3 separate regions of the Homo sapiens genome follow, and all the other regions are linked to region 3. Evidence: fine-mapped expression QTL. A gene starts in region 3. Each other region holds a variant in brackets. All regions are shown on one strand. Distances are between the middles of the regions. Region 1 has its middle 26 kb from the start of EML1. Region 2 has its middle 53 kb from the start of CYP46A1. Region 3 holds the start of EML1 (EMAP like 1).

The links.
Region 1: its variant is fine-mapped to the expression of EML1 in tibial artery (GTEx, PIP above 0.99).
Region 2: its variant is fine-mapped to the expression of EML1 in skeletal muscle (FUSION, PIP 0.95).

What each region holds. Positions count from the first base shown.
Region 1 is chr14:99,764,074-99,770,965 of GRCh38, forward strand. It overlaps a transcript of EML1 not described here. Among named protein-coding and RNA genes, the nearest start is that of EML1, 26 kb to the right of the region's middle. RefSeq lists enhancers at 3,822-4,780, 4,781-5,737. The variant C/T (reference allele first, on the strand shown) is at 3,010.
Region 2 is chr14:99,734,342-99,741,233 of GRCh38, forward strand. It overlaps a transcript of EML1 not described here. Among named protein-coding and RNA genes, the nearest start is that of CYP46A1, 53 kb to the left of the region's middle. RefSeq lists enhancers at 3,189-3,999, 4,811-5,621. The variant G/A (reference allele first, on the strand shown) is at 3,420.
Region 3 is chr14:99,790,290-99,797,181 of GRCh38, forward strand. EML1 (EMAP like 1) reads left to right here and starts at 3,124. Exons shown (of 22, transcript NM_004434.3): 1 at 3,124-3,254. The coding sequence starts at 3,188. RefSeq lists a silencer at 2,818-3,297 and an enhancer at 3,045-3,876.

The DNA of each region.
Region 1 (6,892 bases), 26 kb before region 3:
CAGTGAGTGGGGGCAGTGGAGATGCCCGCTAGTCTCAGGCCACCGCTGACTTGCTGTGTGACCTTCCTCCTTTCACTGCCCTCTCTGTGTGGCTCACTCTTCCATGAGGACGTTGGGCTGGGTGGCTCCAGAGCTGTTCTCCTCCTGCCTCCTCCCCCAGCTCACAGAGGTCTCACAGCAGCTCTTCACCCAGGTTGTTCTCCTTCCTTCTCGCAGCAGCCCTGCAATTTTACAGATGAGGGAAGTGCGGCTCAGAGAGGCTAAGCGATTTGCCCAAGGTCACGCAGATAGTGCCAGGTGGGGCTGGAATTCAGCTGCCCTGTTCAGCCTCCACTCCACTTCCCTGGCCACCGTCCTGGCCGAGGCAGAGCCCTGGGTTGGTCTTCCCCACTGAAGTCTCCCTGGGTGATGTGCATTTCTGACAAGCTCCCAGGTTTAGCGGATGCTGCTGGTCTCAAGAGCAGGCTTTCAGCAGCGAGCTCTGTACATTCACAGTCTAGTGGAGCATGCAGGTTGGCGAACAGATGAAGGCCAAGGAGCGTCAGGGCAGGCTTCCTGGAAGTGCCGCTGCAAGGAGAGAAGGAGGTGGCTGAGAAGGAAAGGGGAGACAAGTCCCAAATTCCAGCCCAGGCACAGAAGCAGCAGGGTGGGCTCCACATGGCCACTGAACCACAGGAGCTTGGAGCAGGATGTGATACAGTTTCTTGATAGACTTTTGGCATGGCCAGGACTGGATCCAAGTCAGTGTATAGGGACACCCAAACCGCTGTCCTGCCCGTTCCTCAGTCAGTGTTGTTTTTTTTACTATAGCAAAATATATAACAAAATTTACTATCTTAATCGTTTTTGTTGTTGTTGGTGTTGTTGTTGTTGTCGTTTTTAGAGACAGGGTCTTACTCTGTTGCCCAAGCTGGAGCGCAGTGGAACAATCATGGCTCACTGCAGCCTCAACCTCCTGGGCTCAAATGATCCTCCCACCTCAGCCTCCCGAGTAGCCAGGACCACAGGCGAATGCCACCATGCACAGCTAATTTTTTTTCTTTAATTTGTAGAGGTGGGGTCTTCTTATGTTGCCCAGGCTGGTGTCGAATTCCTGGGCTCAAGTAATCCTCCAGTCTCGGCCTCCCAAAGTGCTGGGATTACAGGCGTGTAAGATAGGCATGCCCAGCCCGTCTTAACCATTTTAAGTGTACAGTTGAGTGGCATTAGTCCATTCACATAGTTGTACAATCCTCACTCCCATCCATCTCCACAGCCCATTTCATCTTGCCAAGCGGAAACTCTGTGCCCACTGAACAATAACCTCCCCCCACCACGCCAGGCCCCTGGCTACCACCAATCTACTTTCTGTCTCTATGAATTTGACTGCTCTAGGTACATCATGTGAGTGTAATCATATAGTATTTGTCCTTTTATTTCCGGTTTATTTCATTTATATATCCTCAAGTCAAGGTTCCTCCGTGTTGTAACGTGTCAAAATTTTCTTCCTTTAAAGTTAAAAATATTACATTGTATAGATTTACCGCACTATATATATATATATTTTTTGAGACAGAGTCTGGCTCTTTCGCCCAGGCTGGAGTTGCAGTGATGCAATGTGGGCTCACTGCAACCTCTGCCTCCTAGGCGCAGGTGATTCTCATGCCTCAGCCTCTCGAGTAGCTGGGATTACAGGCGTGCACCACCACGCCTGGCTAATTTTTGTATTTTTAGTAGAGACATGGTTTCCACATGTTTATCAGGCTGCTCTTGAACCCCCTGCCTCAAGTATCTGCTTGTCTTGGCCTCCCAAAGTGCTGGAATTACAGGCATGAGCCACCGTGGCTGGCCTGGATTAATGGTTAATAATTAAAGGTTAATAAAATGGTTACCACATTTTATTTACTACTTACACATTCATGGCTAACGATTAATGGTTAATAAAATGATTACTACATTTTATTTACTACTTACCCATTCATCCATCAATGAACACTTAGGCTGTTTCCACCTTTTGTCGATTGTGAATGATGCTACTAGGAAAATGGGTGTGCAAACACCTATCTGAGTCTCTGCTTTCTATTCTTTTGGGGGTAGACTCAGAAGTGCAATTGTTGGATCACATGGAAATTAAACTTTTACTTTTTTTTTTTTTTTTTTGAGACAGAGTCTCACTCTGTTGCCCAGGCTGGAGTGCAGTGGTGTGATCTTGGCTCACTGCAACCTCTGCCTTGTGGGTTCAAGCAATTCTCCTGCCTCAGCCTCCTGAGTAGCTGGGATTACAGGTGCCCACCACCATGCCAGCTAATTTTTGTATTTTTAGTAGAGACAGGGTTTCACTATGTTGGCCAGGCTGGTCTCGAACTCCTGATCTTAGGGGATCCACCCACCTCTGCCTCCCAAATTGCTGGGATTACAGGCGTGAGCCACCATGTCCGGCCTAATTTTTAATGTTTTTGAAGACCTCAGTTGGTATGTTTCTATCACACATAGACCAACTAGCAATTTTAGGGGGGCTTCCCAACAGCAGCTGAGGAAGACTATTGTATTCCAGCATTAGTTAATGTCAAATGAACAGCTCCACCATTCTAGTCTTAAAAACCAGGTTTGAACTCTTCACCATTGAATTTCTCTTGGAAAATGTTAAATGTCCGCCCAAATCAACATCAATAATTTGTTTCACTTGGCAAGGATAAATGTTTAAAATTTAACGAAGCCAGCTGATTTCCACAATCCCAGGTTGCCAAGCAGCAATCATGGTAATAAATGACCAATGCTTTTCTTGTAAGAAAAATGTTTGCATGGAGAGAGAGGGTCGGCCGCTAATGGAGAGAGGCTGGCCACCGGGCTTCTATAGGAAGCAAAGTGCAATCCATCATCCTGGAGTGTTGGCTTTGAAAATGCAGCGTGTCCACTGGGAGTCACCGTTTTCCAAAGGTCCTCTTGCTGGCCCTGCTGAATCACAGTCCCATAATTCCCCCACCGCATAATATTTTTCCATCGCCATGGTGACTGTGTGAGAAGAAGGCA[C/T]GGTGAGAAACTTCAGGGATTACTTCTTATTTCACGGAAACGAGATTTGACTTCTGCTAAAAAGTGGGCTACAAATTTCTATTTTAAGGAGAAGAGCTGGGTTCCATGAACCAGAGCTTACTATAGCCGAGAGGGAGCATGGGTCAGGTCTGGTCCTGGTTCCAGCACTTGCTAGTCATTGACTTTGGGCAAGACTATTTCTCTCCAAGCCTCAGTTCTTTTCTCTGTAAAACGGCATTGGCCGGGCACGGTGGCTCACGCCTGTAATCCCAACACTTTGGGAGGCCAAGGCGGGCAGATCATAAGGTCAGGATATGGCGACCATCCTGGCCAACATGGTGAAGCCCCAACTCTACTAAAAATACAAAAATTAGCTGGGTGTGGTGGCACGCACCTGTAGGCCCTGCTACTCGGGAGTCTGAGGCAGGAGAATCGCTTGAACCCAGGAAGCGGAGAGGCGGAGGTTGCAGCGAGCTGAGATCACGCCACTGCACTCCATCCTGGTGACAGAGTGAGACTCCATCTCAAGAAAAAAAAGAGGGGGATGGAGAATGGGAATTAGGGTTCTCTGTGGGATCCTTTGAAAAAAATGCAAGACATTTACAAATTGTGAGACCCTTTTCAAAAAACAAAAGCCAAATACAAGCCCCCCCTTATTTCAGGCCAAGGTGCTGTTGCAGGTGGCTTTGTCTTGCATTACTGTTGGCTGCTTTCCTCAAGGCCTCCCCCAAGTCCCCTCATTCACATACACATCTGTCACCTTCAACAAGACAGGGATTTCGCCATGAGCTTCAAGGAGACAGAGACTTTGTCTTATATTTATTCTGAACACCCCCCACACTACTTTGCTGAGCACACAACTATACTCAGAGCTGGCCTCAAGAAATCCTTGAATTCAAATTCAGATCCAGTAAATGCTTGCCAGGTCCCATCTGCCTTGGGCTGGTGGGCACAGGGTAAATCAGGTGGAAGAGGCCAAGTCACCCTGATTTGAAGTCACTCCTTCGACTTCCCAGTGGCTTCTCCCAGAGATGGGGCACGGAGAAGTGATCCCACACGAAGGGTGCACATTGAATGTAAGATTCATCCCAATTCCAGAAAGCTTCGAAAGCATAAAGGTGTGTCTTAGAGCGGAGGAAATCCAGCCATTACAATGCCACGTGCTAAGTGAAATTCTCAAGGGTGTGCTATTCTTAGACGTGACCCAGGGGAGGGAGGAACTCATTCTTCATGGTGGAGTGGTGAGATGGGGTCTCTGAGGGTCTCACGGAGCCGCTGTCTGAGCTGGGGTGGTGACGTCTGTGGCAGGAAGGATTGTGGGGTTGATGGAGCTGCCTCGGAGGAAGAGGGTCCAAAATGGCCAAAGGAACTCGGGCACAGGCGCAGAGACACAGAGCAGCATGATATGGCTCACGGAACTATCAGTCACTCCACATGGCTGGAATATAGCAAAGGGAGGAGGTGGGGGTAAGGCAGACAGGCCCAGGGCCAGGAGTGGCCATCTCTGTGACAGCACGGGATTACTGGGCACAAAGATGGGCGGAGCTTCAACTGTGTGACTCTTGCACCAGAACAGCTGGGGAAAGGGGAAGGTAGAGATGCATTCCAACAATCCCCAGGGCTGCTTCTGTGGTCTTTTTTTTTTTTTTTTTCTCAGATGGAGTCTCCCTTTGTCATCAGGCTGGAGGGCAGTGGCACAATCTTGGCTCACTGCAACCTCTGCCTCCCAGGTTCAAGTGATTGTCCTGCCTCAGCCTCCTGAGTAGCTGGGATTACAGGCACCCGCCACCATGCCTGTCTAATTTTTGTATTTTTAGTAGAGTTGGTGTTTTACCATGTTGGCCATGCTGGTCTCAAACTCCTGACCTCAGATGATCTGCCTGCCTTGGCCTCCCAAAGTGCTGGGATTACAGGCGTAAGCCACCACGCCTGGCCTGCTTGTATATTATTTTTGACAGCAGTTTGGGGATCCAGGGTGACCCAAACTGGTATTGGTTGGTGGTTTCGATGTGGGTTTGAGGTTACCAAGAACTACAGACCCCTCTACCTAGTAGGGGAACCAACTGGAAGGCTCCCTGTCTGGTCCTCCTTTCTCAGCCAGCCTCTGAGCCCCACATTTGCTAGTGACTCTGAGCAGCGTGGCCATCTCCTCGGTCAAGTCAGCCCACCAGCGGTTTTGCAGCAGGTGCTGAGCACTCGGGGAGCTGGGGTGTCAGCACACAGACAGGGAGCACTGTTCCAAGGATCATTTTCTCCCATCACAGGGCCCTCACCGTGGGCACCAGCAGGAGGTGGCCCTTTGGAAGTGGAAGCACACAGCCCTTCAAGGCTTGTCCTCAGTAGGCAGTGCTGGCCCCAGCCCTGAGTAACCTTGGCCTCCCCCACAGTGGGCAGGGACGCAAGCTCCTCTCCATTTCCAGGGATCCCATTCTCCCCAGGGCCATGCATTTAGAGCAGACAGGTCAGTTTCAATGGTTTGTCAATCTGATATCACTTCTTTCTGAGACCTGACAACTAGTTCAGGGTGATGGTCACTATCAAGTCTCTGCAGTACCTGCCCCTACACTTGAGAAATCAGTCACATGAGTTTCAGCATCAGGACAAATGTCATGATGGCTTCCAGATGTACCTGCCTTTAATGCTCAGGTTTTCTCAGGACACCACTTAAATGTAGGGACAATTCCTCCGAGGCTACATTCCCATGAGGAGCTGGCTGAGAAGTGGGCAGCAATCAGCACCAGCAGATCCTCCTTATCTTGTTCTTGCTCCTCTTTCCTCCTTTTCTTGGGAATAGAAATGGGTTCTGCTGAGCTTGGTCTGGCCCAGTTCACCCCTCCAACCACATTCCCTACCAGTCCCTTCTGTCCCCTGCAAGTTCCAGCCACCTGATGGCCCATACATGCCAGCACAAACGTTCCCGCCTCTTTACTTTGCTCACTTTGCTTTTCTCTCCTTGTCCACCGGGTTTTGATGACACTTAACCTTTGTACCATTCCCCCCCATTTCCCCTAAGATAGTGGAATGACCCTCCTCTGTCCTCCTATGATCATCAGAGCTGTGTTTGTCAGTTTGGGCTACTATAAAAGAATATCATAGACTTGGTGGATAAAACAAGAGACATTTATTGCTCACAGTTCTGGAGGCTGGGAAGTCCAAGATCAAAGTGCTGGCAGATCTGGTGTCTGGGGAGGGCTGTCTTCCTGGTTCACAGACAATTGTCTTCTTCTTGTATTCTCACATGGTGGAAAGCAAAGAAAGACGAAGCAAGCTCTCGTGTCTTTTTAAAAAATTTCTTTCTATCTATCTATCTATCTATCTATCTATCTTTTTTATTTTGACCTGCATGAAGAGAGATCATGTCTTTTTTTAAGGAAATAAATTCATTCATGTGGGTTCCACTCTTATGATCTAATCACCTCCCAAAGGCTCACCTCGAAATTCCACCATTTCATTAGCATTTCAACACATGAATTTTGGGAGGACACAAATGTTCAGTCCATAGTATCAGCTCAGTTACTTTACCTCCCTGGGCCTCATTTTCTCCATTTGTAAAACAGGGATGTTCCTATCACCTGGCGAAGTAACAAGAATTATTGAACTGTGACATATGCTGAACACAGGGCCTTGAACATAGTAGGTGCTCAAGAAACATTAATTTCTTCCCTTTCTTACTCTTCCTTACAGCAGTTTCCGCTGATTTTTTTTTTTTTTTTTTTTTTTGAGACGGAGTCTCGCTCTGTTGTCCAGGCTGGAGTGCAGTGGCGCGATCTCGGCTCAGTGCAAGCTCCGCCTCCCGGGTTCACGCCATTCGCCTGCCTCAGCCTCCCGAGTAGCTGGGACTACAGGCGCCCGCCACTACGCCCAGCTAATTTTTTGTATTTTT
Region 2 (6,892 bases), 56 kb before region 3:
TGAGGCCTCTGTCGGGGAGGCGGGTGGTGTGGCGGGGCTCTTTTCTGCAGTGCCAGTTTGTCCAGCACCAAGATGCATCCCACACCTGTAGAACCCCGGGTTGGACTCTGGCAGTCTCATAGGGGTTCCTGGGGGGTCAGCACTGGCCCCCTCTGTCCCACAGCGTGCCCCTCCATCAGCCCAGCCCATCCCATCCCATCCCAGGGAGCCCAGAGCAAGGGTGACAGGAGTTGAGACCCGAGATGTGGCCACAGGCCCTGCCTGGCATTGACCCATGGGCCTGGGTGTGCCAGACAGCAGGCACTGAGAGGGGCCACAGTGTGTGAAGCCCATACAGCGGGGTGGGACCTAGGAGACAGGTCAGCCCCCAGTCCATGCCTCCCATTCCCTCCAGTGCCTGACACCAGCTGCCGCGCCAAGGCAAAGCAGAGGTGCCCAGCGAGGGACTCACGCCAGTCCTTCCCTGGTCACACCCCCTCCCCGGGGATACAGATGCCACCTGTGCATACCCGAAGTCTGCCAAGTGCCGCAGAGCTACCTCAGTTCAGCCCACAGCCGGGCAGGCGGGGCTCCTCCCACTTTGCAGGGGAAGACACTGGGCTTCTGTCTTTGCTGACCTGCACCCGATTTTCTCCCTGCCGCGCCCTCACCCCAGCCCAAGGCACAGAGCACCGTGGTTCCACCTCCGCCCCTCCCCCAGAGTTGTCCTGGAATCACACCTAGGGGATGCGGAGGGACGAGGGGAATTTTCGGGGTGGAGGAGACAGTTCCAGGGGAGGTCTGGCTTTGTCTTTCTCTTTTTTCTCTTAAAATTAAATTTTCAGTTAGGAGGAAAGAAAACTTCAGTTAGGAGGGACCCAAGATGGCCACCAGTCCTGGTTTGTCTGAAGCTGGTGGGGGGTCAGTTTCCAGGATCCATGGAGGACATTCAGGGCTAAAACAGGGGAAGTCCCAGGGAAACGGGACAAGTTGGTCACCTGGGAGGGACCCCACAGCCATTTAACCCTACATGATGCTTGAGCTCCCTCCGCTGTGTCCCCGCCCAGCAGCTGCGCAGCCCTGCTTGAATACCATCAGTGATGGTGAGTTCATTATCTGACAGGGCAGCAAGAGCCAACCAAGAGGGGGACACAGCCAGGACTAGGCACTGACCACAGTGAGGTCGGAGTTGGCAGAGTGGAGTGTGGGGCAAGGGAAAATGGAGCAGGGCCCCTGAGCTGCCTTTAGGGGCAGCCACAGCTTCCCACGGAAAGAGGAGGACAGAGAATTCCTAGGCCAAGGGAACAGCACAGGCAAATGCCTATACCATAGAGATTGAGTTCTTTCTCTCCGATGGCCAGTGCAGGGGTGAAGCGTGGAGGCTGTGACTTCACAGCCTTCTTCCCCACCCCACCCACAGATAGGGCTTCCTTTGGAAACATGGAGGCCTCGTCCTCCTGCCTTCACTCCCCAGGTCCCTGAGCCAGAAAAGGCCTCAGTGCAGATGGAAGAGCTGCCAGGATGCCCCAGCACGCTGCTCCACCCGCCTCTCATTTTCCTGAGGCTCATTAGTCCTCAGCACCAGCATCTGCCCCCTCCTCCAGGAAGCCTCCTCTGACTTCCCCAGCCCTGAGGCCTCCCCTGCCATAAGCATCATCCTTCTTCTCAGGCTTGCTGCCACCTCCAGCCCTGCCAGCGACCCCTGCCACCTCTAGCCCTGCCAGAGACCCCTGTAACTCTTCAGCCGGGCTTTCTCACCTCCACACCTGCTGGCTTCTCTTCCTAGAACACCCTCTATTCCCTTCAAAAAACTTTCTGGGCTGGGTGCGGTGGCTCATGCCTGTAATCCCAGCACTTTGGGAGGCCGAGGCACTTGGGGATCACTTGAGGTCAGGAGTTCAAGATCAGCTTGGCCAAACGTGGTGAAACCTTGTCTCTACTAAAAGTACAAAAATTAGCCGGGCATGGTGGCAGGTGCCTGTAATCCTAGCAACTCAGGAGGCTGAGGCAGGAGAATTGCTTGAACCTGGGAAGCGGAGGTTGCAGTGAGCCGAGATGGCGCCACTTGTACTCCAGCTGGGCAACAGCAAGACTCCATCTAAAAAAAAAAAAAAAAAAAAAAAAAAAAAAAACTTTCTGGGCTGAGCACAGTGGCTCATGCCTGTAATCCCAGCACTTTGGGAGGCCGAAGCACAAGGATTGCTTGAGCTCGGAGTTCAAGACCACCCAGAGCAACACGGTGAGACCCCCCCCCCGCCTACAAAAAATAGCTAAGTGTGGCAGCACAGACCTGTGTTCTCAGCTAGGGAGACTGAGGCGGGAGAATCACCTGAGCCCAGGAGGTTGAGGCTGCCGTGAGCTGTGATCATACCACTGCACCCCAGAGTGACCCTGTGGCAAAAAAAAAAAAAAAAAGAAAGAAAGAACTAACTTTATTTTCACTTAAAGATAATTCAAATGCCTGCTCTTCCAGGAAGCCCTCCTGGATCTCTCAGATTGAGTTTCTCTCCCTTCTCTTTAAGCCATTTCATTCCCTCTGGTCTCTGCATACAGAACTAGGTAGACCTAGGGCCTGGGGGGCCCAGCAAAGCCCAACCCTGGGGTGATGCCTCTGGGATCTCCAGCCCTTGGCTGGTCCTGCCCTGCACTTTGTGGGGACCAGGGGAGGGGCTGGATTGGCTCTGAGCCAGGTACACAAGAGCATACTAAGAGCTTGCTGGAGTGCATTCTTTCAACCAGTTTTTCCTGAGCACCCACACTCTGCCAGGACCACATGACTGCCCCTGGGGATCCTGTCTCCATCCCCTGTCGACCCCCAACACGTGGCACACTCAGCACACAGTAGATGCCCGAAGTGCTGGCTGCTTTTGGCCAAACAATCAAAGGCAAGGGACGGCCTTCCTGCAGCCTTGGAGACAGACAGCCTGGCTCCAGATCCTGCTCACGCCCCGTACTGACCCGGTGGCTTGGGTGGGTCCCTTAACCTCTCTGTGACATGGACATGATGGTCGCAGCAGCTCTGGAGAGCAGTGAGATGACAGGGGTGGCCACACTTCACATAACTGCTGGTCCCGGGCATGTACTCAGTGGTAGCATCACTTGTTATTCTCCTTCCCTAAATGTCCGTAAACGTCCCTTGCTGGCTGGGTGGAACCGTTCCCAAGGAAAGAGTGTACAGGCATTCCCAAGTCCCCAGGAGCTGGAGTCTTGGGGACTGACCAAGCACCTAAGGGTGCAGTGGCTTCTCAAGCAACATCCTGGGGCTGCCCCAGAGAGGCCCTGGGCGGGGGAGGGCAGTGCCCAGATTTATCCACCAATCGCACAGGCTGCTGGCACTGAGCACGTTCTTATCTGCCCAGCCCAGCATGGGGGGGTGGCCAGGCCGGCCGGGGCGGGACGCTGCCTGGGGCTGGACGCGGAGGAGCCCCAAGCCCTGCTGG[G/A]TGGGTGACAGCCGCTGAGGCTCTGAGTGACCCTGCAGGCTGGTGGCCAGCCGGCCGCCCATCTTCCACACCATGTCGGACGGCGAGGGCCCCTCCGCCGGTGAGTGGCAGCGCTATATTTACCCGCTGTGGCTCCGGTTGCAGAGCCAAGGCCGCCAGTCGCCGAGGGCACTGGGGCCCCCGCAGGCTGCAGGCAGCTGTGAGCTGGACCCCCTTCCTCCTTGCCCGACGCCTGGGGGGCCTGTGCCGCTGGAAGGGGGGAGCTTGACTTTCAAAGCTGGGTTCCGCCACACCCCCTGACTGCCCAGTGTAGCCAGTGCAGGAAGCTGTGCCTGATTCAAGCTCTCCTGGGGCTGGCAGCCGGGGCCAGAGCTGACCCAGGACAGAGGGGCAGGGGCTGCGACGGGACCCATGGGTGGGCTCAGGATGCCGTGGGCCACTGGAACCGCATGCAGACGAGTGTGTGTGAACACTTAACGGCGGGGGAGAGCACACAGCTTCCGTCTGATTCCCCAAGTCTGAGACCTCTGGGCGTTCTGAGTCCCTGGTCCGGCAGCACCAGGCAGGCCCTCTGTGTGCCCTCATATCCTCTAGGTTGAAAATGGCCAGCGACACAGGCAGGCAGAAGGGCGATCAGATTCTGGGGTCTGCCCACTGCCCTTTGCTCTGCCTGAGGCCAGAGGCTGTGGTGGGGACTGGCCACCTATGTGCCTGGCTGGCTGCCCCCGGCTCCTGCCAGTTACAGAGCCAGCCTTGGCGGAATGGGGGCTGGGGACGGCCAAATCCAGGGGGACTCTGGAGTCAGGCTGTCCAGGTTCAAATTCCAGTTATTTCACCTCCAGGCTGGGTGGTCTTGGGCAGGTAGCTTAACTTCTCTGAGCCTCCGTGTCCCCAGGTAAAAATGGAGACTGTGGTCCTAACCCCCCAATGGCTGTGAAAATTAAATTTATGATATTGTGTGAAAGCGCCTGTGGGTGCCTGGGGTGCACTGAGTGCTCAGGGCCCTGCGTGCTGGCAGCAGGTGGGCACCCTGGGCAGCAGATGGGCATCCCAGGCAGCCCAGGCAGCCAGGTCTGGCCTCCTCCAGCAGGGCCTCCTTCGTAAGCCACCGATTGTCGCTGGCACGTGGATTCCTTCTCCATAAAACCCCACCTCGGAGGCTCTCGGAACTCATCAGGGTCTCCTGGGGGGTGTGGGGCAGATCGTGGGTGACAGCACCCTGCAGATACCCTGTTACTAATGAACAGTGCCAGCGCCTTGGCCTGGCTGGGTAGGATTTGGAACAGAGCAAGTGAGAGTGTGAGAGTGTGTGTGTGTGTGTGTGTGTGTGTGAGAGAGAGAGACAGAGAGAGAGAGAGAGTGTGTGTGTGTGTGTGTGTGTGTGTGTGTGTGTGTTGGGGAGGGGTACATTGACAGAAGGGGCCTGACCTCACCCTCTTCCACTGGGTGCCAGTTGTCCTGGCTGCCAGAAATTGCCCGCCGGGGCTGCGGGAGCCCCGGGAGCCAGCAGACAGCTCTTTCTGGCTGGCCCTGCCCCACACCTGACGCTAACCCGGAATAGCTCTCCCTCTCCACCAGGGACATGGCCCTGGTTTTAGCAGTTTGTAAAGCCACCCGCATGGAGATGGGTATTTCAGGAAGGCCAGGACAATATTTAGCCCGTCGGAGCAAAGGAATGGGCACTGAGCATGCACGTGTGTGCGCAGCCTGGAGGCTGGGAGGTGACGTGGGCCTCACCATCCCTTCCCCATCTAGGAGAGGGTCAGCCCAGTTGGGTTGGGAGGTGGGGCTTGGATTCCAGGCTGGCTCTGTCTGCCCTGGTGGGCAGGTGGCCCTGGGCAGGCTCCAGGCTTGGTTTTCCCATCTATAGAATGCCACGTGACGGTCTTTTGTCTCTAATATGTGGGTTTGAAGTTGAACTTGGCTGGCAGGAGTAAAGGCGGCATCTTGGTGCAGGAAGGTATATTTACTTATGGGTAGAAGGGGGTCTTCTGGAGCACACAGTGTGAAGTTCAGGCCTTTCTAGGATTCCTGCCCGGCAGCAACCAGTGGTTGCTCCAAGGACACTGCTCTGAAATATTTTCACCTGTTTTCAGTAACCGATCCCCAAGCCGTGTCGGCAGTGGGAACATTCTCAGCTCTCCACTCGTGACTGGTGTGACCTAGGGCAGACTATTCAAGGGCACTGTGCCTCAGTTTCCCCATCCATTAGGTGGGGACAATACTGGGACATTAACTCCTCAACGTGCACTAAGGATTAAATGGCTAACAGCATGTAACACACCTAAAATAACGCCAGGCTTATTGTTAGTGGTTATAGCTCTTATTATTTCACCAATACATAAGCAACCTAGAGAGGGAGATGAGGGGAGCAGAGGACCCACTGTGTCCTGGACACACTGTTTTGTTTATTACCTGGAGGTGGGGGCTATCAGCTCCACCGTGTAACTAAGAACACTGAAGCTCAGAGAGGCACATGTGAGGTCACCCAGCTGGTCAATGGCAGAGCAGGGATTCGAACCCAGTTCCTCAGACCCTGTTAGCACAGAAGCCAGGTTAGGCCCCTCTTCCCGGGAGTCCCACCTGCACACCCAAGGAGGGCGAGGCTGGCTATTTTGTGGGGCTTTTTGGCTTGCACCTGAAGAAGCAGCTCTCATTTCAGGGTTGGCTAGCTCAACATTGCCTCCAATAGCTTGCAACCTGTAGAGAAAAACATAGTGCCTTGTTAGGGTGTCAGGAAAATTCTGCAGAGCAGGAGCACAGCAGGAGGTGGCCGGCCCCTGGATTTATGGCCCTGTGCCTGGGTGGGTGAGCCGGAGCTAAGGTTACCCGGGAGTCAGCACCGTATTTATAGCAGGAACTCTCCTGCATCAAGTACCGGCCCACACACCACGGCCAGCAAAGGCGCTTCCTTTACAGTTGCCTGCATTCTAGGCTTGGCTCTGTCTCTTCGGGGCAGAGTCACGTCACCTTTCTAAGCCTCAGTTTCTTCATCTTTAAAATGGGGGGTTCGTCAATTCTCTCACTGGGTCTGGAAATAGGATCTGTAAGTGCTTGGCACCTGCCTGGCATAGATGGGGCCTCAGAAGATGCTGGCTCTACACATCCTGGGTCTGTTGATTGTCTTTTCCTGCCTTTGACCTTGTGATTTACCCATCTCCGTCCTGGCCAGAATCTGCAGGAAGAGAATCCAGGTCTCTGTGCTGTAAGCTGCACCCATGCTTGGGAAAGTTTCCAGCAAAGCAACTTTACAATCCTAAGCACCGAAGAGCAGGCTGTTCTGTTTTCAGCAGAGCAATGAATGCAGGTCCATCAGAGACCAGGGTTCAAATCCCAGCTCTACCACTCCCTAGCTCTGTGGCCTCGGGTGAGTCACTTAACTTCTGTGAGCCTCTGTGACAGATGGGCATTTGCCCTGCTGCAGCAGGTATGGTAAGGACAGGCCTCTAACCTGCAGAAGTGTTCAGCCAGCA
Region 3 (6,892 bases):
AACATAAGGAATGCTAACATTCTTTTTTTCTTTTTAAGATCGGGTCTCACTCTGTTGCCCAGGCTGGAGTTGAGCATTGCCCCAGCTGCACTGTATGGAATGCAGTGGTGCAATCATAGCTCACTGCAGCCTCAACCTCCTGGGCCCAAGTCGTCCTCGCACCTCAGCCTCCCAAATAACTAGGACTACAGGCACACACCACCACACCCGGCTTTAAAGAAAACCATCTTCTAATTATTCATGATTATTACTTCCTTTTCAAGTTCAGAAATACCACACCTCAGCTTTTTATGCCAATCATCCAACATATCCTGAAGTATAAAACTGCAAAGTGGAATAGAGAGAGCATGAACACTGGAATAGACAGATGGGAAATGAGGAAGATGAAATGTGCATCTGGGTGTTAAGTCTCACCCTTTGAAAGCCGCTTCTCCATAGCACCTGCCTGCTGCCTTAGAGAGGCAGAGAACCCACCTGTGCCAGGCGGGCGCAAGAGGACACTTTACCTGGCCCTCTGCCAACTTTGGCCCCTCCCCCCATTTCCTTTCCCTGCCAAAGTTTTCTTTTTTTCTTTTCCTTTTTTTTTGTGACAGGGTCTTACTCTGTCATCTAGGCTGGAGTGCAGTGGTGTGATCTTGGCTCACTGCAACCTCTACCTCCTGGGCTCAGGTGATTCTCCCACCTCAGCTTCCCAAATAGCTAGGACTATAGGTGCACACCACCATGTCTGGCTAATTTTTTGTATTTTTTTTGGTAGAGACGGGGTTTCCCATGTTGCCCAGGCTGGTCTTGAACTCCTGAATTCAGGCAATCTGCCCACCTCGGCCTCCCAAAATGCTAGAATTACAGGCATAAGCCCCGCCCTCGGCCTCCCTGCCAAAGTGTTCTAACGTGCATGTACCTGCCCTCTCCCTTTGATATCCAGCAACCTATTGCATCACCAGGGTGCTCCAGGTCACCTGGGAGCCCTCTGCCACCAGACAGAAGAGCCTCACCCCAGCCTCATCCTCCTTGACTCTTCCTGCAGAGAACTCTACGCAAATGCCCACTGGAAGCTTTCTGTGCTCTTAGCTTAGAGAGACAATGTCCTCTGCTGATTCTCCTGCCTCTCTGACCATTCCTTCGGAATGTCCTTCTCTCTCCTTTGTCAAGGCTGTACCCCAGCCCCTGTCCGATTTTCTATTCTCTTCTTTAGAGACTTCATCTACAACCCCTTTGCTGACAACTCCCAAATCTCAATTCTTTCTCTCCAGTTGCTACAGGGCACTTCTAATTGGAGGTTGTGCTGTCCCCGCTTGACCTTCCTGTCTTTCCAGCTGTATGGTCCTATAGCAACTTCCCTCTGGCCGGCCCTTGGTGCCTCATTTCTGGAGCACTGCAGACATCCTGGGCTGTTCCAGCAACAGGCCGCGGCCCCTGCAGCCCAGTCGGCAGGCAGACCCAGCTCCCTAACACAGCTCTCAACAGTGGCCTGCCTGCGTGAACCCTCCAAGCGTTCCTCCATCTCCCCCCAAGTCTGGTTCAGGCTCCTCTGCAGCTCTTGGGGCCTCTCTTACCTGGCCCCTTGCCCTCAGTCCAGTCTTATTTCCCACTTGTCTGCACAATGTCTGCAGGCACCGTTCCTTCTTTCCTCACTAGCAGTGTCCTGCCCACTGTCCTCCATCCACCAAGTCACAGTCAAACCCGCAGCACCTGTGGCCCTTCAGCCTTCACTCACAATGTATCTTCCCAATTAACAATCCTGCTAGGACAGGAATAAGCTCTTAAACTTCTCCCTCTGCCCACAGCATATAGCACCAGTCCTTACTAACCCATGCACTAACCGTGCCGCACGCAGAGTGACAGAGCCCTGTCCCTCACCTGCCATCTACTGATGTCCAAGCTGGGCTTCTGGAAGGACAGGCCTCTGAGCCCAAGCGAGACCTACGAGTTTTCCTAATTTTAACTTACTCAGTTCTTATTTCACCTACTCTATTCAACCTGCACAAGTTAGTACCTACCATTTCAGATTTTGGCATGGAACTGAATTATGACTGATGCAACAGGAAGTGTAAACGTTCTGCAGTCTCTTTGGGACCAAGCTCATTCTTGGGTTAGATGATCCATTTTATATATTCTAATTTATTGCTTCCCACTCGTTATTTGGCGCATCTTTACTTACTTTACTCCATGGGTATAAAATGCGAACCATTAACAGCATTTATACGTGTATGGCCTGGAAAAGTTACAAACTCATAGATCTATGTGTTTCTCCGACTGCGCTATTTTCTCCTAACTCTTGGTGTCTTTCTGATGTAGAATAAATACTGATTTCCTTAGTCCTGTAGCAAGTTAACAAGCCTGTAACGTGACAGATCTGTATCCCAGGGGCTGATCATAGAGAAACCACAAAGCGATGTTTTAGCTGCGTCGAGTCCTCAACACGGGGGACTTCCAGCCTGGTACCAGGATAGCCTCTCTGGCCCAGTGTGAGCGAAGGTTCGAGCTGACTTGCCAGTCCCGTGCTAAGTCTCACTGAGGCAGGGCCTTGCTGCCGCGGAAAAACGTGTGGACAGAGGAACGCGCCGGTCGGATGTGGGCCACAGTGAGCCGCGGCGTGGAAACGGCCGAAATGTGCGGGCGCGTTGTCCATGTTTGGTCGTGGAGCTGCCCGCGGGCGCGGGAACAGCGCGTCGGGGGCGGGTGGGCTTGGGTGTCCGTGGCGGAGGTTACCCCGGGCCCCACGCGCCCGCTCTCTCCCGGCCTTGGTCTTTGTCCCCGCGCCCCCGCAAGGGCCGCCCGCCGCGCCCCGCAGCCCCTGAGCCCCCGTGCGCGGAGGCGGGGCCTGGCCAAGGGGACAGCGGGCGGCAGACGCGCCCCTGCGGCTCCCAGGCCGCCCGGGCCGCGCTCCCCGCGGGGAAAGAGGCCGCAGGCGCGGGGAGGCTCGGCCCCGCCCCGCCACGTCCCCCTCCCGGCCCGGGCCCCGCGGCCGCCGAGGCCGCCCCCTCGCGGGCGGAGCGGGCGCTGGGCTCGCGCGGCTGCGGCGGCGGCGGCGGGCCCGGGGTTGCCATGGTAACCGGCAGCAGCAGCCGCCACAGCAGGGCCGGCCCCAGCGCCAGCGCCGGTCGCGGTCGGGCTCAGCTCAGTGTGTGGTGAGCGGCGGCGGCGCGGCCGGGCCGGGGAGCGGGCGCGGCCCGGCGGCCTCAGCATGGAGGACGGCTTCTCCAGCTACAGCAGCCTGTACGACACGTCCTCGCTGCTCCAGTTCTGCAACGGTGAGGGGCGGCCGCGCGGGGCCGGGGCGGCGAGCGGCTGGTGGCGGGCGGCGGCGACGGCGACGGCGGGGACCAAGCCGAGGGGCCGAGGCCCGGCGGCCGCGGGCGAGGCCGCGCAAAGTTGTTGCGGAGGGGCGCGCGGTCCCCGTTCCCGCCGCCGGCGCATTGTGTTGGAGCCGCGGGGCCGCGCCTCGCTCCGGGCCGCCCCGGGCTCCCCGCCGCCACCCCGGCTCCCGGCACTGGCGCGCGGACCCCGCCGGCTCCAGCACCCGCGGAGCGCGCCCGGGCGGAGGCGCGTGGGGCACAGGGCGGCGGGGAGGCCCGGGCAGCCTCCGCGTTCCGGGGAACGTGTTGCTTTTTTGCTTCCCGACCCACATCTGTTTGGAAATGACTGGATGAAGAACTCGGGAAACAAATCCTTTAATAACAAAACCCTCCTGCGAGGATGCACGCAGTGTTTGGACCCCCAGAACCCATTCAGGTCTACTTTAATGAAATCATCACAATTTAATACAATCTAGAGCTTTTTAAATGGAAAGCCAAAGTGGACCTGGCCTCAGTGTTGCTTCTTATTTTGTTTATGGGATAATGGATTCTTTTTTCTTTTTTTGTTTTTGCAATTTTACAGGAAGGAAACATTCATATCCACCAATATGGCATCTTTTTAAAAATATGAAATCCTACATGCTTGAAAGATTTCAGTCTCATTGGCAGGGTTGAAAAAGATTTTCATAGCACACTGAATATTTTATCAGAACATGATGTGTGATAATTCACGCACAAAAGTTAACCACACTTTTTTTTTTTTTTACATGTTGGATTTATTGCTCCATCAAAGGGCCCCAAAAGTTTGTTAATGGGAAAAAAAAATGTGTATTTGATAGAATTTGCTTAAGTGCAGTCGGAATAATTTTGAATTCTAGACCCTTTGACAACTGGAGCAATTTATTTTGCTATTGTATTGTGATTTAGGGAAAGTTTTCTTGTTATTCGACACCTGTTTGTCACTGTAGCAGTAAAGAGTAATGAGTGTGTTGATTCATCCTCTGTAGTGGTATTTTTTATCTCTGGTGAAATTTATCATCTTGTTCATGGTAGAATGTATACTCTGATAGCTTTTGCAGCTTATACTTTACATCTGAACCATTTGTGGGCCTTCATGAATTTAGTAATTCCCTCTTCAGTGGAATTAAAGAAAGTTTCTGCTTTTTCTCTGAATTTAACGCCAGTTTCCAAGAGCAGAACACCTGTGTTTTTGAGCCTCAGAAGGTGTTGAGGGCAGGTAGAATGTATTTGGTATGCTGGTGGTCCCTGGAATACTTTATAGTATAGAGTCATGGGAACGGTTTTGCTCTCCAGTAGGTTAAATAGATTCCTCAATTAACATTTTGAATAGGTTCCTTAATTGACTTATAATCAATCATATTTGAATTATTGTTTTTGATCTAAAAAGTAGTTATATGCTTATGGTAGAATTCTCCCTATGCTTAGTTGGAAAGATATGTGGCTGAAATTTGTATTAAATGACTTTGAGGCATCAGGTCTTACAAATTTAATCTGTGGGCGTATTATTGACAGCTTGATTTGCGATATGAAAATGAGCCTAGATATTTTTATTGGAGCAGTTGTTTGGGGCCTGGTCATACTGTTCCTAAATAGCAGTTTAGTCATGAAGTTGACCTACACGTCTGTTCATGAATGTTTTCGTTTTCTGCATTTTCCTTTTAATTGCCAGCCTAGAGATATTGGCATGGTATTTTACTGGTGGTGATGTCCAGAAGAAAGTAAAAACCAACTCTTATATTTTGTAGAAGTATTGGTTTAAAGAAAAACCACCTTAACTAGAATCAAACAATAAGATCACTTTATAACTATTGAATTACTTTTCTCAAAAAGTTCTCAGCTCTGTATTTGTTATTTTTTTTTTAGGTTGTCTAATGAATAAAGTTTAAAGCAAGAGTGGCCTATGGGGCAGAAGTCAATGTTAACTGGTGATGTCTTAGGCAACAGATGTTTTGATGTGAAACATTTTAAGAGGCTTTCATTAAGTGAAGATATAAATGAATACAAGTCAGTTAATTACTATGATGATTCAATTAAAGCAGTGGATCACAGAAATGCCATTTCACTAGGAACTAAATTAAACATTTGGATATTTCATTAGCTACATTGGCAAACAATTTTTTCTTTTTAAATGAGAGACTTACATTACAATGGCAAGACAGCAGCATAATACATGAACTCATACATTTTCATATGTTCAGTATGCGTCATGCTGTTAATAGTGACAGAAACTAAAAAATCATGGTTACAGCTTTAGAAAATATAATTCACACATATTATTTGGATGACTGTCATAGTTAATTTCCTTCTGGTCAAATAAAGACAAGATCAAGATATGCGAAGTTGAGGCGGGAGGATTACTTGCAGCCAAGAGTTTGAGAGCAGCCTGGGCAACATAGCAAGACCCCCCTCTACAAAAAATTTTTAAAAGTTGGCTGGGCATGGTGGCTTGAACCTGTAATCCTAGCTACTCAGGAGGCTGAGATGGGAGGATTGATTGAGCCCAGAAGTTTGAAGCTGCAGTGAGCTATGACTGTGCCACTGTACTACAGCCTGGGTGACAAAGTGAGACCCTGTCTCAGAGAGAGAGAGAGAGAGAGAGAGAGAGAGAGAGAGAGAGAGAGAAGATAATGTGTAAATGAGAAGGGAGAAAGAGAAAAGTTTGTTCTAATGAATGAAATTTCTGTCTTCTCTTATACTTCTTTCTTGGTGTCTCTCCTCATAATTTGTAGTGGACATTAAATGCAAAGTTAGGCAGTATCTAGCCTCCTGAAAAGGCTCATCCTCATCTTTCAGGAACTGTCTTTCTCATTTAAGCAGAAAATGTGTGCATTGTTTTCTTCAGAGTATTTGAAATCTGTAAAGTGAGCTAGAAATCACAAGCTTTTTTTTTTTTTTTTCTTTGAGCCACACCTTGCTCTGTGACCCAGGTTGGAGTGCAGTGGCATGATCACAGCTCACTGCAGACTCAAACTCCTGGGGCTCAAGCAGTCCTACCTCAGTCTCTCAAGTAGCTGGGACTACAGGTGCGTGCTATCATGCCCAGCTCACAAACTTCTTTTAATGCTGGGAAAAAAAAAAAACCTGAAGTGTTTTAAAAAGTGAACAGTAGCTATCCTTTATAAGACAATTTATGATTTGGGAAATAACTCCATATTTTCTTCGAGGCCTCATTTTGAAGTAGGTGGTGTTACCATCCTTCCTTTGTGCCTGAGAAAACGGAGGCTCGAAGAGATTTGGCAACTTTATCAGGCCACAGAACTAGGAAGGGCTTGGATACCAGTCTAAATCTTTGTGTGTGTATGTGTGTGTGTGTGTGTGTGTGTGTGTGAGAGAGTAATAGCTTTATTGAAATATTTACATACCATAAAAATGTGTTTTTAAAGTGTACCATTAAGTGCGTGTAGTATATTCACAGAATTGTCCAGTTGTTACCACTCTCTGATTTTAGAACCTTTGCATTACTCCAGAAGAAACCCTAGTACCTACTAGCAGTCACTCCATGTTCCCCCATCGCCCTCACCCCTGGCAACCATTAATCTACTTTCTGTCTTTATAGATTCTGGGCATTTTAT